2 separate regions of the Homo sapiens genome follow, and region 2 is linked to region 1. Evidence: fine-mapped expression QTL. Tissue or cell type: whole blood. Region 1 holds a variant in brackets; the other region holds the start of a gene. All regions are shown on one strand. Distances are between the middles of the regions.

Region 1 (8,107 bases):
ATTTGCCTATATACATGCTTGTTTACATAAGCAATTAAGCTTATTTTAATACTTTCATAAGGTTAGTAAGGTAAGTCCTCTGCAAAAACATCATGCTAAATACAAATGCATTCACAATTCTTTGATATGGATAACTGAAAGTTGGTTGTATTTTCACAGGCACATTATAATGTAATGAATAAGTTGCCCTTATTTCCACTAAAATATAAGACGGGAGACCTATAAGCTATTACGGTTGTTTAATATAGACTCTGTTCTAAATTAGGAATTATTAGAATCTGGCAGATAGCATAATTCCTATAATCTATAATTAATTTGCCATCACATTTCTTATTGTTACAGGCAATGATACTGTCACACTCAGTATTTTAGATAAGCTATTGCAAAATAACCAAAAAAGAATTTGAACTTTATTTGTAGAGCACCTGTCTCTTAGGAGAGTGGAAACTAGTCTTCAAGTACTTAGAATGTCATGAACTTTGTGTGATGAAAAATACTTCTTTTTTTAAATGATGAAGATAGTATTGTTAAGAGAAAAACCATGATCTTCTCACCACCAATTTTTCACTGTTAAACTGGCTGGTAGTATGGCAGGAATCTACTGTTACTGAGTAGATTTAAAGTGCTTGATTATGTAGTTATGCAGAGTTTTTCAGCGTTTCAGATTCTTAATTAAAAATGTTTTGGGAAAGAGCAGAGTAAAATAACCTTGTAGTATTTAGTGTTTACATTGTAGTGCATGTCATGCTTATTAATGTATTTAGTCCTTTTTTTGTGAAATGAAATACCCCTAAAGTGGAAATGGTTATAACTGACTAAAATCATACTTGAATGGTGGGTAAAATTTTCTAGCACATTTAGAAGAGAAAATACTAATTTCTTTTTTATGGCCTTGTTCTTTAAAAATTGATGGGTCACAAACTTAGTCTAAATAGATATAAACGTTTTATTTCAGAATTAGTCTAGTTCTTCTAAAAGTCTCATGCAAAGGAGTAAGCAGATTTCCTTAATAAGGCCATGTTTTTCAGCACTGTATCTGTTAGACCTCTGATGATTTTCGGTTGTACTTGTCCATATCCTTTAACCTGTGTTTTATGTGCCATTGTATATTTTTCTATTACCCTTCCACTAGGATTTGGAACTAGCTCTGGTTTTGGATGCAGCACCACAGGGGCCTCCACATTTGGATTTGGAACAACAAATAAACCCTCAGGAAGTCTTAGTGCAGGTTTGTGTGTTTCTGCCTGGATTTCAGGCAAATTTAAAGGTGTAAATTATTTAATTTAAAAGTATGTGTTGTTATTTCCAGTAACCCAAAAAGTTCCCTCCCTGATTCAGTTTTTACTCCCTGGATGAAGTGTGCAAGCCTAACTAATCATTTTACTTTATCTCTCTCATAAACTAAAGGGCAGGTTTGTAAAATACTTCTAACAAGACTTCTTAGTTTGATTTAATAATTAATTACATCTTCTAACTCAGAGATTCATTTGAACTCTAGTGACTAACTTCATGGTTAAATAATTTTCTTCATTATTACAAAAAGGAACCCATCATTGTGAAAGTTTAAGTTTTTTGTCATAATTCATCCTGGAGAATGATTTCTATTCCAGGGTCCCTCTGGTTTTAAGAATACCACAGTCTTACAAATGATTATTAATTTAGTTTCTTGTTCATTTTTGAAATAGGTATAATTTTTTGACTCTTCTTATGAAAAATTCCAAATTTCATCTACTTTTGCATTTATATTGGTAAATATGGCTTGTTTTAATGTGCAGTGCTTAGGGACAAATACCATATCTAATGTAATGACATAATACTGTGAAAGATGTGTTTAAATTTAGAGAATTTGAAGGAATTAAGTAGCGTTTAAAATCAGCAGTTCCAGTGGAGGAAGATAATAATAGGATTCCATGTTATCAGGATTATAATTGAAATATTGTATTAGTTAACTAGGCAGTAGTAGTACTAGATCTTAATTTTGCAAAAGCTCTTATAAAATCAAAACAGTAAGTACTGCTCTTTTGTTTGTTCATTGTCTTGAACATTGTGGGTTGAAGCTTTCCTGGAGGACTTGGGATTGCAAGGGTAGGTCCAGATATGTGAATGTCTCTCTTCTACATGTTGATAAAATGTTTTTGGTGGGTCTAAGGAGGAAGGCACCTTGACATATTTAATTAACAGGAAAGTTTCTGGCAACTTGAAGTTTATATAGATTTTAGTAATTTGTGCTAAGGTTTCTCTTTTGACCTGCATCACTACACTCTCTTTCAGGGTGCCACTTAGTTGTTAGCTATATTATTTTCCTGTTAAAATTTCATGTTAGAAATTTAGGGCTTTAATATATTTGCTATTCTTACAGATTATGTATTCTTTTAGATAGAAATTTACTGCTCCTCCCTGTTTTTATATTTGTTTTTGGAATTCAACTTCTGATATGAATATTTTTTTCCCTAAACATAAGGCTTTGGCAGCTCAAGTACATCTGGGTTTAACTTCAGCAATCCTGGCATCACGGCATCAGCTGGTTTGACTTTTGGGGTGTCCAATCCTGCCTCTGCAGGTTTTGGAACAGGAGGACAACTCCTTCAGTTGAAGAAACCTCCAGCTGGAAACAAAAGAGGAAAAAGATAAACATGGGTTGATGTGTTGAGAGAATCCATAGCAGCACCGTTCATTCTATGAGTCTATTTTTCTAATGATGCAGTAATTAAATTGCATCCCAGGAGATTTATAAAGTTTTGATATTTTTCCCTACTCTGGAATTTGAACTTTCTTCATGTTTGCCATACTGAACATCTTTTTTCTTGTGGAATTTAAAGTCCAGCTGTGTTTTCTTTTTAATTTGATTCTCAGTGTAAGAAATGTTCTGATTACATCACTGATTGGTAATGGTTAGAAACCATTAACCTAAAACTTACTATTTAACCTAGTGTTTTTGTTGATGAGGTTTACATTATGTGAATACATGCACATTTGTTTCTTATACAGGTGGTGTGAACTCTAGGGCCTATACTAGAATCAATTTGTTCCTTGTTAAAGGCCTTTTGAATTATACTGCAGGGCATCTTGTGAATATGTATGTAAATATATACAGAATAATACACACAGTTGTGTGTGCATATAAAATACATATTTACGCCAGGCGTGGTGGCTCACGCCTGTAATCCCAGCACTTTGGGAGGCCGAGGCAGGCGGATCACCTGAGGTCAGGAGTTTGAGACCAGCCTGACATGGTGAAACCCCATCTCTACGAAAAATACAAAAATTAGCTGGGCATAGTGGCGGGTACCTATAATCCCAGCTACTCGGGAGGCTGAGGCACGAGAATCACTTGAAGCCGGGAGGTGGGGGTTGCAGTGAGCCGAGATCACACCACTGCACTCCAGCCTGGGCAACAAGAGCAAAACTCCGTCTCAAAAAAGATGAAAATAAAATAAAATATATATTTACAGGCCTACAACTTTTGCCTCAGACTGTTCCCCTTTTCTAAGGGTATTCAAGTTTTCACCTTTTAAGCTTCATATCCTCAGTGCTTGTAGAATGATGAGCTTAGAGGTACCAGGTCATTGCAGTTGTTTGCTTAAAGACTTATTGAAATGGTTACTGGCGTAAATACTTGGCCAACTCAACTTTATTGCCCCTGATCTTTTCCATTTTTGTTTCCACCTTAACCTATAGCAGCTCCTCCAAATGAGGAATGCTGTAAGTAAGACTCATCAAACAGATTTTAACCATTTTATTATCCTGTGTGTCCTTACATTGCTTCTGTGAGATGTTTTTTTCTTATCTGAGATGAACTTTCAGGAGCCTATTTGAACTCCAGACTGGTGTTCTGGGGCAAAGAGCTATTAGCCAAACTGATTCTATGCAGGTGAAGGATGCACTAAAGTTCTCACTTTAGTGAGAACTTTTCTAGCTATTCCAATACAGAGTTCTTTCTTATAGGGCTATTGATATTGACACCAAATGGAGTGGCTTCTCAGCCTCTTAATGTCTTAAGTAAGTGCTTAATTTGGAATAGAGAAACCAGTATATTTTAAAAAAGAAAAATATTCTTTGTAGCAACTGTAAATTCTCCCATTATAACAGTGAACAGAGCTCCAGGTAATAACGCATAGGCATGTCAGGTTGCATCTGTATATTTGACTACATTAGTATTAGTGACATCAGGTGGATATAAAAGAAAACCCTTGGAAAGAGAACTGCCTTAGCCATGATTTCGTTAGTAGACCTATTTATGATTCAATTGCAATTTTCAGATAGGATGTGAACATGGAATTTCATTGAAAATAGTTTAATTTTTTATATAAAAGGTTTTGTATATAATGTGTGTCAGTGACTATTTTCAAAATCATTTTCATCAAGACACCTTTTTTCTAAAATAGGCATTGCATACACATATGCACACGTATGTGCA[T/C]GTGCCACACATTTTTTGTATAATGTTGGGTTTGATTATAAAAGTGTTGTCAAATGTTTTATTTATCTGCATATAGCAGTGGTTGGCTTTTTTGAATTGAAATTTTTGCGCATTGATGCATTGAAATAAGGAAAATTATTTATCTCTGAGCACTAAACTTATTTTTGCATATTTCTGTAATATTGCAGTCCCCAGATCCAGAACATGGGAAGTTAGGGAAAATGTGTGATTTTGTGTTTTGAATTACTGTCAGAATTACATACACAATTACAACAAACTTTTTTTAAAAGACATTTCATTGTACTGCAAAAATCTGAATATTTATATTTCTTGTTTTTTTCTTTATATGTTTTGCATTTTAATATGTTGAGCCACTGGAAATTTGTAACAGATTAATTTGTTATAGGAGTTTAAATGTGTTGTCATTGTCTCCATTGTCTTTGTCCAGAGCCTATTATTATGGAAACAATAAAATTTATTGTGTCAGTTGCTTTGATTCTTTATAGGTGTCAGTAGCTGTTCTTAATATGTAATTTTATTATTGCTCTTTTAGTCTCCGGTTGGGTTTTAGTATATTCCCTTCATTGGTTTATACATCTTGCTCTTTTTTAAACAGAAGAGTGAACATAAGATAGTAAATTATTTCTCACTTGCTTTTGTCTTCTCAAAATGACAAAAACAGTGAACATTTTTAGTTATAAAGAATAATATTGAGTAAAAAAGGAAAAATCCCTTTGAACTTTTGGGCCCTAATTCCCTTCCATTTCCTAGTGTGCAGTCTGATGGTTTGATATGTATCCTTGTAGACCCTTTTAAATATGTCTTAAAAGAATATATAAATGTTACTTCTCTTTTCTTTTTCTTTTATATTCTCTCTGATTTTTTATCACATTTTATTCTCTTGGATCCCTCTTTACTTTTTTAACAAATAGGTTAAAAAGTTTGTGTTCTGGACTTGTTCTTTTTCCCTTCTATTAGTATATCATCAGCATCTTTCTGTGTCTATATAGATTTACTTTTTACATACTGTCCCATAGAATGGGTGTACAATGATCTGTTTCAACTACTGTGTGGTTTTTTTAGGAAATGTAATTTTTTAAAATTTTTTTTATTTCCATAGATTATTGGTGAACAGGTGGTATTTGGTTGCATGAGTAAGTTCTTTAGTGGTGATTTGTGAGATTTTGGTACACCCATCACCTGAGCAGTAGGCGCTGACCCAGTTTGTAGCCTTTTATCCCTCACCCTCTTCCCACCCCTTCCCCTCTTAAGTTCCCATAGTCCATTGTATCATTCTTAATGCCTTTGTATCCTCATAGCTTAGCTCCCACTTAGAGAACATAGGATGTTTGGTTTTCCATTCCTGAGTTTCTTCTCTTTTTTTAAATTTTTATTTATTTATTTAAATTTATTATTATTATACTTTAAGTTTTAGGGTACATGTGCACAATGTGCAGGGTAGTTACATATGTATACATGTGCAGTTTCTTCTCAGAGTAATAGTCTCCCAATCCCATCCAGGCTGCAAATGCCATTAATTCATTCCTTTTTTTTTTTTTGAGATGGAGTTTCACTCTTGTCGCCCAGGCTGATGCCATCTCGGCTCACTGCAGCCTCTGCCTCCTGGGTTCAAGCAGTTCTCCCTCAGCCTCTGGAGTAGCTGGGATTGCAGGCATGATTACGCCTGGCTAATTTTTGTATTTTTAGTAGAGATTTAAGTAGAGATGTATTTTACCATGTTGGCCAGCCTGGTCTCAAACTCCTGACCTCAGGTAATCTGCCCGCCTCGGCCTCCCAAAGTGCTGAGATTATAGGCGTGAGCTACCATGCCCAGCCAATTCATCCATTCCTTTTTAGTGGCTGTGTAGTATTCCACATATATATGTATATATATATATATATATATACACATATATATATACGCACACACACACATACATACACACACACACCCCACACCAACTATTCTCTGGATGGTTAGGTTCATTTGACTATTTCAGTTTCTTCGGGGTTGATTCTGGAAATAAATTGCTGAAAAGTCATATAAATTGTGTGTTTTAATGTCACATTGCCTTCCCAAAATGCTATACAAATATATACTCCTACCAGCATGTATATCCATTTCCTAGTATTCTTTGTGATCCCAGTTAATTGTAATCCTAATTATAAGTCTTTGTGAGGTCAACCTTTTTAATATGTATCAGCTATTTGTATGTTAATGTAATTGCTTATTATATCCTTTGGCAATTTTTATACCAAATTAGGGTTTTTTCTTAATGATTTGTAGGACCTCTGTAGATAATAGGTATTAATATTTTTCCTGAGAGATATGTCTAGTCAGCTGTGTTCAGAATCCCGCCTTGACCATGTGTGATTTTAAGCAAGTTATGTAACTTCTAGACTTCAGCTTTATCCTCTAGAAAATAAGGATGATATACATGGGTGGTTATACTAATAATATAATCTAAAGCATTTGGATAGTGTAACCCCTGACACCTGAGAAGCATTAGGTCTTCCTGCACCAATACCCCACTGCCTTAATCATTGTAGCCGGATGCTTTATTTGTATACCTGATAGGAAGCTGCTTTATCTTAGCCTTTTTGTTTGTTTTTGTGTGGGGAGGCTATTCTAGGACACTTAGTCTTTAAGATGAACTTTAGTGTCTATTTTATTGAGTTTGATTTTTCTTTAAAAATTCTGAGATTTTTATTGGATTTACACAAAATACGTCCTGGGGGAAATTGACAACAATAAGCACAGCATGATACATGCATCTGTTGGGTCTTTTGTTCTTTTAACAAAGTTTTTATTAGATTCTTGTTTGATTATTTTTACTAACCATCTTGATTTGAATTGAGTGCAAATTTTTATCCTGTAGTAGGTATGAGGTCATTTACATTATTACAACCAGTTATTTCCTGTCCTTTCTGATGATAATATAGTAAATCCGAGTTAATGTCCTACCTTTTCTGTGAATAAGGCTGACTTTGCCACACTTTTTGAAGCACACACCAAGACAGGCTTATTCAGTCACAGGATTCTGGGCCTTGCTAACATGAGCCAGTGTCCTGGGAAGTCTTGAGTTGGCATACCTAACTTAAATCTCATGCACAAAGTCCTCTTTGCCTCTTACATCACATCCCCATTTATTGGGTGCATAGTCTGTCCTGGGTACCACTCAGCATTTTATATACTTGACCATGTTTAGTCTGAATATTACTGTGTAAAGCAGAAATACCCAATTTATAGATGAAGGAACTGAGGCTAAGGTTAAGCAACTTACTTGAGGTCGCATAGCTAAGTCATAGGGCTGGGTTTTAAACCCAGACCTGTTTAATTCCAAAGCACAATATTTTACTGCCTGTCTCTGATCAAGGAATAGCGTGCTGATTTTCATGACTAACTGAAAGGCACTGAAGGTAATGTGATTACACAGTTCATATGGGGGAAACTACAAGTATGTGATAGATCAGGGCAAAGTAAGGTAAGTACCTAGGTCTATGTGATTTAAAAGGAGAGGGAATACTATCTGTGGTGTAAAGAGCGTTATAAAGAAGCAAGAGCCGGACTTGTGCAGTCCATCTTTGACCTTTTCTTGCTGGTTCCCTATGAAGAGGTTTATGGAGAAAAGCATCATCCCAGCAACTGGATGATGGGGGCGGTGGGGGGGGGTCTGTCCACCTTGGAAA
Region 2 (8,133 bases), 40 kb before region 1:
AATTTGCATTATTGATTTATCTCTCTATATACATTTGGTTGTTGCTGTTGTTCAATCACTTGAGAACTTAATGAATTTTTAAAGTGGAAGGACACTACTCAAATATTTAAAACCCTAAAATATTTAAGACCTTTTCTGAGAATAATTTTCAAGATAAAGACTGTGATTGAAGGCAAATGGTTACATGTAATTTCTAAAAGATAACCTCTTTTCTGGATATTTCAGAGGACCAGAACTGGAGATATTACAGACTCCTTTCAATAGACTTCAGATTCCCACTTCTTTTCTGTCTTAGAACCGCTGCTGAGAGAGGTTCTCAAATGGTTATCCTGATCTGAACACCCCCACCAAAGCAAACCTATTTTAGATATGTTAATGCAAACACAAATTAGAAGTTTTAGCCTGGGCAACACGGTGAAAACCCATCTTTACAAATAAACAAATTAGCCGGGCATGGTGGTGGACACCTTTATGTAGTCCGAGCTACTCGGGTGGCTGAGGTGGGAGGATCGCTTGAGCCAGACAGGCAGAGGTTGCAGTGAGCCAAGATGGTGCCACTGCACTCCAGCCTGGGCACAGAGCCAGACCCTGTCTCAAAAAGGAAGAAAAAAAAAAAGTAAATTTTTTACAGTGCTATTTCTGTTTGGATAATTCAGTTTGATTATGACATTAACAATGTCATCATCCTGCTGGCAAATCAGCAAAAGATGCAGTTCTCTAACAGAATGCTTACAATATAAGAAGCAAGGAAAGACAAGATGGCCTACTCTAGAATTTAGAATCTGAAGCACTTGCTTCATCCCTGGAAGCAGCAATTCACATAGAACTGACACATAGGTTCAAGTCCTCTAATGTTAAAAAGCGTAATATTTAGAAGATCCTTTGGGATAGGATTTGTTACTCTACCTAGACTAGGTCAGGAAGGTTAAGCCAGATTCCAGTGCTCCATGGTTCTGCTCAGTTGCAGATAGGATTCAGACTTATGTATGCGTAATGCTCAGTTACTGCTATTTTACTGTTTTCCATTCACTAACCAAACCATTGAGCTTATTGAAAGCTGCTTTCTTTGGAGTTTCATTTCTGTAGAATGTAAGGATGTAATTTCTTTCTTCACTAATAGGACAAGCGGCACAAGGTATATGAGATGAGAAGGGGTCTCCAAGATTTAGTCTTATACTTAGTGCATCTAGTGGTAGATTGCAATACTGCTCATCAGATATTCCAGATTTTGTCTCTGCAGTGCTCCTCCTTGAGTGATTTGGGGATTTATTATGTAGTATAACTTAAAATATTCTGCCAGATACAAGGCAAGAAATGCTACACTAAAATTTTGATAAAGTTGAAAGGATAGTTTGCTTGTTAATTGGAATGGCTTCCCCCAAAACCCAAACTTTAATCTAAGTCAGACTTCCTTTATTTCTTTTATAAACGTTCAGCTTCAAAACAGTTATAGATGTGGCTGGGCGCGGTGGCTTACGCCTGTAATCCCAGTACTTTGGGAGGCCGAGGCAGGCAGATCACAAGGTCAGGAGATTGAGATCATCCTGGCCAACATGGTGAAACTCCAGCTCTACTAAAAATACAAAAATTAGCTGGGCATGGTGGCGCATGCCTGTCATCTCAGCTACTTAGGAGGCTGAGGCAGGAGACTCGCTTGAACCAGGGAGTCGGAGGTTGCAGTGAGCCAGGATCTAGCCAGTGCACTCCAGCCTGGTGTCAGAGTGAGACTCCATCCAAAAAAAAAAAAAGTTACAGATTTACAGAATTATTACATAGTGTGCTCATATTCCTCACACCCAGTTTCCCCTATTAGGAAATTAGTCCCTATGATATTTTTACATGTTCTTTCTTTCCTGTGAATATTACAAGTCTTGTTCATTATTATATATTTAAGTGCCAGCCATTTTGCTATTACTAATTGTAGGTTGGTATTCTTCAATAGTTTTGGAAAGAATACACGAGAAAATCAAAAGACATAGGGAGTGCCTTTCTATCTTCCCATAAAAATCATCAGGATCTTTTTTTTTTTCAGTCAAAAGGAAGTCTCCTAGACTTTATGTGAACAATCCTCTTACTGACCACCCTATAGCCATCACTGAAAATAGCTTTCTCTATATCACCGAAGCTTTAAAACTCACAACAATCTTTTATTTTTGCCTCCTGTTCGATAACTATGAAGTTTTTATTTATATCTTAATCCAAATATATCCCTTTTTTCTTTTTTATCATTCCCATTATGACTTCTATGACGTTTAAAATGTTATGGCCGGGCACAGTGGCTTACGCCTGTAATCCCAGCACTTTGGGAGGCCGAGGTGGGCAGATCGCTTGAGGCCAGGAGTTCAAGACCAGCCTGGCCAACATGGTGAAAACCCATCTCTACTGAAAAATACAGAAATTAACCGGGCGTGGTGGCGTGCGCCTGTGATCCCAGTTACTTGGGAGGCTGAGGCAGGAGAATCGCTTGAACTCAGGAGACGGAGGTTGCAGTGAGCCGAGATGGCACCACTGTATTCCAGCCTGGGCAACAGAGCGAGACTCTGTCTCAAAATAAAGTAAAATATAAATTAAATTTAAAAAACAAAATAAAATGTACGTTTCTTTTTAATTATACAAACACAGAGGTGGTGTATTAGTCTGCTTGGCTGATACAACAAAATACCATAGACTGAGGTGGCTATAACAACAGACATTTACTTCTCTCAATTCTGGAGGCTAAGTCCCAGATAAAGATGGGGCAGTTTGGGTTCCAGGTGAAAGCCCCTTCTTGCTCTGTCCTCACATGGCACACAGAGGAGAACAAGCTCTTCGTTGTTTTTTCTCATAAGGGCACTAATCTCGCCATGGGCGACCCACCAAGGTGACCTCATCTAAATTGAATTACCTCCCAAAGGCTCCATCTCCAAATACCAACATATTGGGGTGGGGTAGGGCTTTAACATATGGATTGGGGGAGGAGGGAAATAGTTCAGTCCACAGCTGGTGGCAATGCCCAAGCTCAACGGAAGATTAAAGTACTGAATTAGGGAGAACTGTGAGATGAGGTTAGAAAGACTAATCATACGGAGGTCATCAAGTGCCAAACTAAAGAGCCACTGGGCTTTTTAGATCATAAATCCGGGGGTTGCTTATGGGATGGATTTTGTTAGAGATCACGAGTAGGAAAACCATTTGGGGGAGTAATGTAACAATCCCTGAGGGAAAAATAAAAACTAACACTATGATGACAACCCTCGAATGCACCACCACCAGGAAGCCTTTCCTGATGCTTCGCCAGAGAGGTTCTCTTTAAACGCGAATTTTTCTTGAGTTATCCTAGAAATGTAAGTTACACCTCACATTTCGCCTTCTTTCGTACATGTTCCTGTGCGTTTCCTAATCCTTCCACTTTGTAGTTCCTCCAGCACCGGTTGTGTCCGAGGGCCCTTCTGGCGGAGCCACACTCGCTCGGCCCAAGGTCCCGCCCTCCAGCATCAGGATGCACGGACAGTATTTGTGGACTTGACCGCATCCCAGGAAATCCAGCGGGCCTGGCCACTTCTGGGCGCCAGGACCACAGCCGGCCACCCCACGGACGCCTGGGACGCTCTTCTGGGCCCCCTTCGGGGCTGGGCGTCGGGCTCGCAACAACTGCGACCAACTGGCTCCGCGAGGCCTGGGGCGCAGGGGTGGGGCTCACGTCGTGGGACGGTTGCATGGATTATTTTCGATTGATTTCCGAACCTTCAGGAAGCAGACACGCTCCCCTTCCTTCTTAGGGATGGGGCGGCAGCCAACGAAAGCCCGAAGCCGCCTCCTTTTCTGAGTGGGGAGCTTAGAGATGCTCAGGAGGGACCTCCCCGATTCTGCGATTCTGAGCATCAATTTTGGCAGGAGGCTAGATAGAAGTAGCAATTGACATTCATCACCCTAAAGTGCGGATTATGTCAGTACAGATGCTACGATAGAAGAACTAAAAAATGACAGAAATGGTTTTACTGTTTTTAAACTCTGGGAGCCTACTCCTTTAAGAGATTAGGCAGTACGCCTATTCTCGCCTGGTCCCAGCGTACCTTGCGCGGCTCGCCGTCCCCCACTCACGTACCAGGGCTCATTGCGTGACGGTTACACTTCCGGCGGGCTACGTGCGCGCGGCGAGCGCCGGGCGTACTTTTGCGTGGTTGCTCCACCCCCTCAGCCTTGCCTTCGCCGCCGTTGGGGCTGGAAGTTCCCGCCAGGTCCGTGCCGGGCGAGAGAGATGCTGCCCGGCCCGCCTCGGCTTTGAGGCGAGAGAAGTGTCCCAGACCCATTTCGCCTTGCTGACGGCGTCGAGCCCTGGCCAGACATGTCCACAGGGTTCTCCTTCGGGTCCGGGACTCTGGGCTCCACCACCGTGGCCGCCGGCGGGACCAGCACAGGCGGCGTTTTCTCCTTCGGAACGGGAGCGTCTAGGTAACCGCACTTTCTCGCCTTCCTGGGCCGGATTCACCCCCACCCCCACCCCCGCAAAGCTCCCTTGGTGTCCCCATCCTGTCTCTTCCCTCTGGCTTCCTTCCCAGTGGGGCTGGAGAGAAGCACTTAATCTAGCCGCCCGGCGTCGTAGGCCTCTCGCCGCGGTACCCGGGCCCAGCGCGGCCTGGTGAAGTGGAGGGCGGGATGGGTTCTGTGCTGTGAGGTTTCCAGAATCCACGTATAGTTCAGGCATTATTTGGACCTAGTGGGGTCTTGACTGCGTGGAAGGGCCTTGGGGTCTACCCCGGAGCTTTAGCGATGTGTCAGTCTTAGGCATAGAATGAACATTGAATGAATGAATGAAATTATAGCATACTGTGGAGTTTTATGATAGATAATTCCGATTTCATTGCAGCATTTGCGGTTTTGGATATGACGGTGTTTTAATAACTTTGTGGTTTTTAACCAGCTTTTCAAGCTTTTGTGCCACATGGGACCTTATCTGTTTTTGTTAAAAAAAACAAAAACACTTTTTTACAGTGTTTATTAGTGGTAATTTTCTGCAGTATGTGCAGATTAGTATATCTGATGCGAGAATGTTGTGTTGTAATAACTCAATTTGTCTTTTACTTAAATTACAAAACGTAGGTAGCATGTTCCTTGTTTTTGTGCAACCCATTAGTTCAGGTGGCGACAAAAACATAACTATCCAGAAAGAAACAAAGTGGTGAGACATTTTAATGAGAGATTTAAGCTTTAGAACTCAATTTTTTTTAAGATAAAGGTGGAGGGGTTCATAAAGTTAAGGAGTGTGCACACTGTCAACAAGATACTTCCTGAAGCTTAAAAGATGTGGCTGTAGATTTAAAAGGCAAATACTTAAGCATGACCTGCAGTTTAAAAAGGGAGGGAGGAGGAACCACGGACTACACAGTCAATTCAGAAATTTGAATTTTCATCCATACCTCCGTTATTCTTACTCTACTCGCTCAACAACAGGTTCTGATAATGTTACTTCTGCCATTTCTGTTTGTCTTTATTTCCAGTTCCACAACCCTGCTTAGGCTATTGTCATTCGTGGAACAAATATTTATTGGACAGATTCCCATGTGCAAGGCTCTGTTTTAGGTATTAAGAGTCTTGCTCTCTTGATCCTTACATTCTTATGAAAATAATTTTGATTCTTGTCAGATTTTTAACCAGCTGTCTTTCTTGTTTTAGATGAAAACTACTCCAATCAACTTCTTCAATCTGTTCTGCCACATTTTAGCCAGAGTAATTGAAAAACAAAATTCCCATTGCTCTCTCTTTAATCATTACCCGCCATCGTTAGAATGAAGTTTAAAAAAGAAAAAAAAACTTACCATAGTCTGCAAGGTCCACTTCTGCTGGAACCTCTGGGGACTCATCTTGAGCGGGACTCATCTTGAGCCCATCTTTTTATTTTAGCTATGCAGACCCACTGTTAAAAACAAACACACAACTACCACCCTAAATAACTGAAATGAAGTTTCAGAGAAAGATACCCTTACTTCATGGGATGCACTTTGATATTTTCTATTTCTTTTTTTTTTTAATGTTGCTTATGACTTGATGAATTAATTTTTATATTTCTCTCATGGTCCTGATCTTAGAAAGCCTGTCCTAGCAACATGGCCTTTTCTCTTTTCAAGTGGGCTTTGCCAGCCCCTTCCTTGCAAATATCAAATGGTCTCTTCCCCAGAGAGGCCTTTTCTGACCTGTCAGTCTAGGGGAGATTTCCATTCTCCTAGTACTCTTAGAGTGCTGATCACAATTGTAATCAGTTTGTTATATTTATTGTTAACTTGTTTGTTGTCAGATCTCAGCACTAGAATAATTAATACCTATGTCTCTCACTGACTAGAAACTGCCTGAGGGCAAGGTCTGAGTCTTAATTTCCCACCTCATTGTCAGTCCCAAGGACAGTGCCTGGCATAGAAAAAGGGCTTTAATAACAATTTGAATGACTGAGCAAATGAGTTATTAGTAATAAGCTATAAAAAATTACCCAAGTTTTAGAGAGGCTTGGATAAATTAATGAAAGAGGAGACTGTCCGACATAAATTTGTTAGAGTGCTGGTTGGGAGGCCTGACAGCCCCTAGTGCCACCTAGTGATTTGATGTCTTGAGGTTGGTCATTTTAGGGGAGTTCTCACATCTGGAAAAGGAGTATAATATATTACCTGAGTTGATGAGTGAGATGAAGTATTTAAATATTTAGCATCAAGTCTGGCACTTGCTAAGTGCTCAGTAAATCTTAGCTATTATGTTAGCTACCAAGTCTGCATTAGGGCAAGCTGGGCAAGTTAAAATAACATTCCAGATGTGATTGAGTCAAGTTGGCTTTTCTACAGTACATCCTATCAAGTCCTTGGCAGATAACATTGGTTTGAGGCAATAATTGGTCAAGTTTAGGGTAGCTTTTGCTTTTCTTGAATTTAGTAAATTTCACTGCCACCAAAATTTCTCTCTTGCTTTTGTGGTAGAGAAAAATTTCATTTTGATGTGTTTCTTTGGCAGTATTTTCAACTTTCATTATGTAATACTTCATAATGTCTTCAGTTATGTTGTCAAGATTATATATATATATATATATATATATATATATATATATATGTATTTTTTTTTTTTTTTAAGACAGTCTCACTCTTGTTACCCAGCCTGGAGTGCAATGGCGTGATCTTGGCTCATTGCAACCTCCACCTTACGGGTTCAAGCAATTCTCCTGCCTCAGCCTCCCAAATAGCTGGGATTACAGGCACGCCACCACACCCGGCTAAATTTTTTATTTTTATTTTTGGTATTTTTAGTAGAGATGGGGTTTCACCATGTTGGCCAGGCTGGTCTCAAACTCCTGACTTCAGGTGATCCATCCACCTTGGCATCCCAAGGTGCTGGGATTACAGGCGTGAGCCACCACACCCAGCCGGCAGTAATGTTTTAGTATCCCCCAAATACTCATTTACCCTACTCCACATTATACACACAACAGTGTCAAAATAACAATACGATCAGACTACTACCAGCTAAGCTAAATGTTTTGGCATATATGCCCCTTTTATGGTTGTACTACCTATGTTGTCTGGATATAGCCATTACATACTATATTCTTTTGCTTGTAGCGCTCACTTAGGTTTCTGTGTGTGTGATCTCACTTAGTTTTGATTGTAGCAATATGTTGTTAAAAATACCTTTTAAATTAAGACTAAATGTTTAAAGATCTGTGGGGTTTTTTTTTTTTTTTTTTTTTTTTTTTTTTTGAGACAGGGCCTTGCCCTGTCTCCCAGGCTGGAATGCAGTGGCGCAATCTCAGCCCGCTACAACCTCCACCTCCTGGGCTAAAGTGATCTTTCCACCTCAGCTTCCTGAGTAGCTGGGATTACATTCAGGTGTGCATTGGCACGCCTGGCTAATTTTTGTTTTTTGGAAGTTTTTTGTTGTTGTTTTTTCGGTAGAGAGAGTTTCACCATGTGGCCCAGGCTGGGCTCAAGCTTCTGGGCTCAAGCAGTCTGCCTACCTCAACCTCCCAAAGTGCTGGGATTACAGGTGTGAGCCACCCGGCCTGGTCAAGATCTGTGTTTTAATTGTTAGCGAGAGCTTACCGCCCTGCTTTGTCTCCTGCCTCGCCTTCATATGCCCAAGGTGCACACAAACACATTTTAAAAATCAGTACTTCTCCTT

Evidence for each region. PIP is the estimated chance that this variant, and not a neighbour inherited with it, causes the effect.
Region 2: NUP58 starts here. The variant in region 1 is fine-mapped to the expression of NUP58 in whole blood (TOPMed, PIP above 0.99).

Annotation. Positions count from the first base shown.
Region 1 is chr13:25,337,504-25,345,610 of GRCh38, forward strand. NUP58 (nucleoporin 58) reads left to right here. Exons shown (of 16, transcript NM_014089.4): 15 at 1,133-1,228; 16 at 2,462-4,918. The coding sequence ends at 2,631. Among named protein-coding and RNA genes, the nearest start is that of ATP8A2, 30 kb to the right of the region's middle. RefSeq lists an enhancer at 1,939-2,108. The variant T/C (reference allele first, on the strand shown) is at 4,418.
Region 2 is chr13:25,297,450-25,305,582 of GRCh38, forward strand. NUP58 (nucleoporin 58) reads left to right here and starts at 4,176. Exons shown (of 16, transcript NM_014089.4): 1 at 4,176-4,431. The coding sequence starts at 4,325. RefSeq lists enhancers at 3,832-4,071, 4,232-4,311, 4,422-4,471.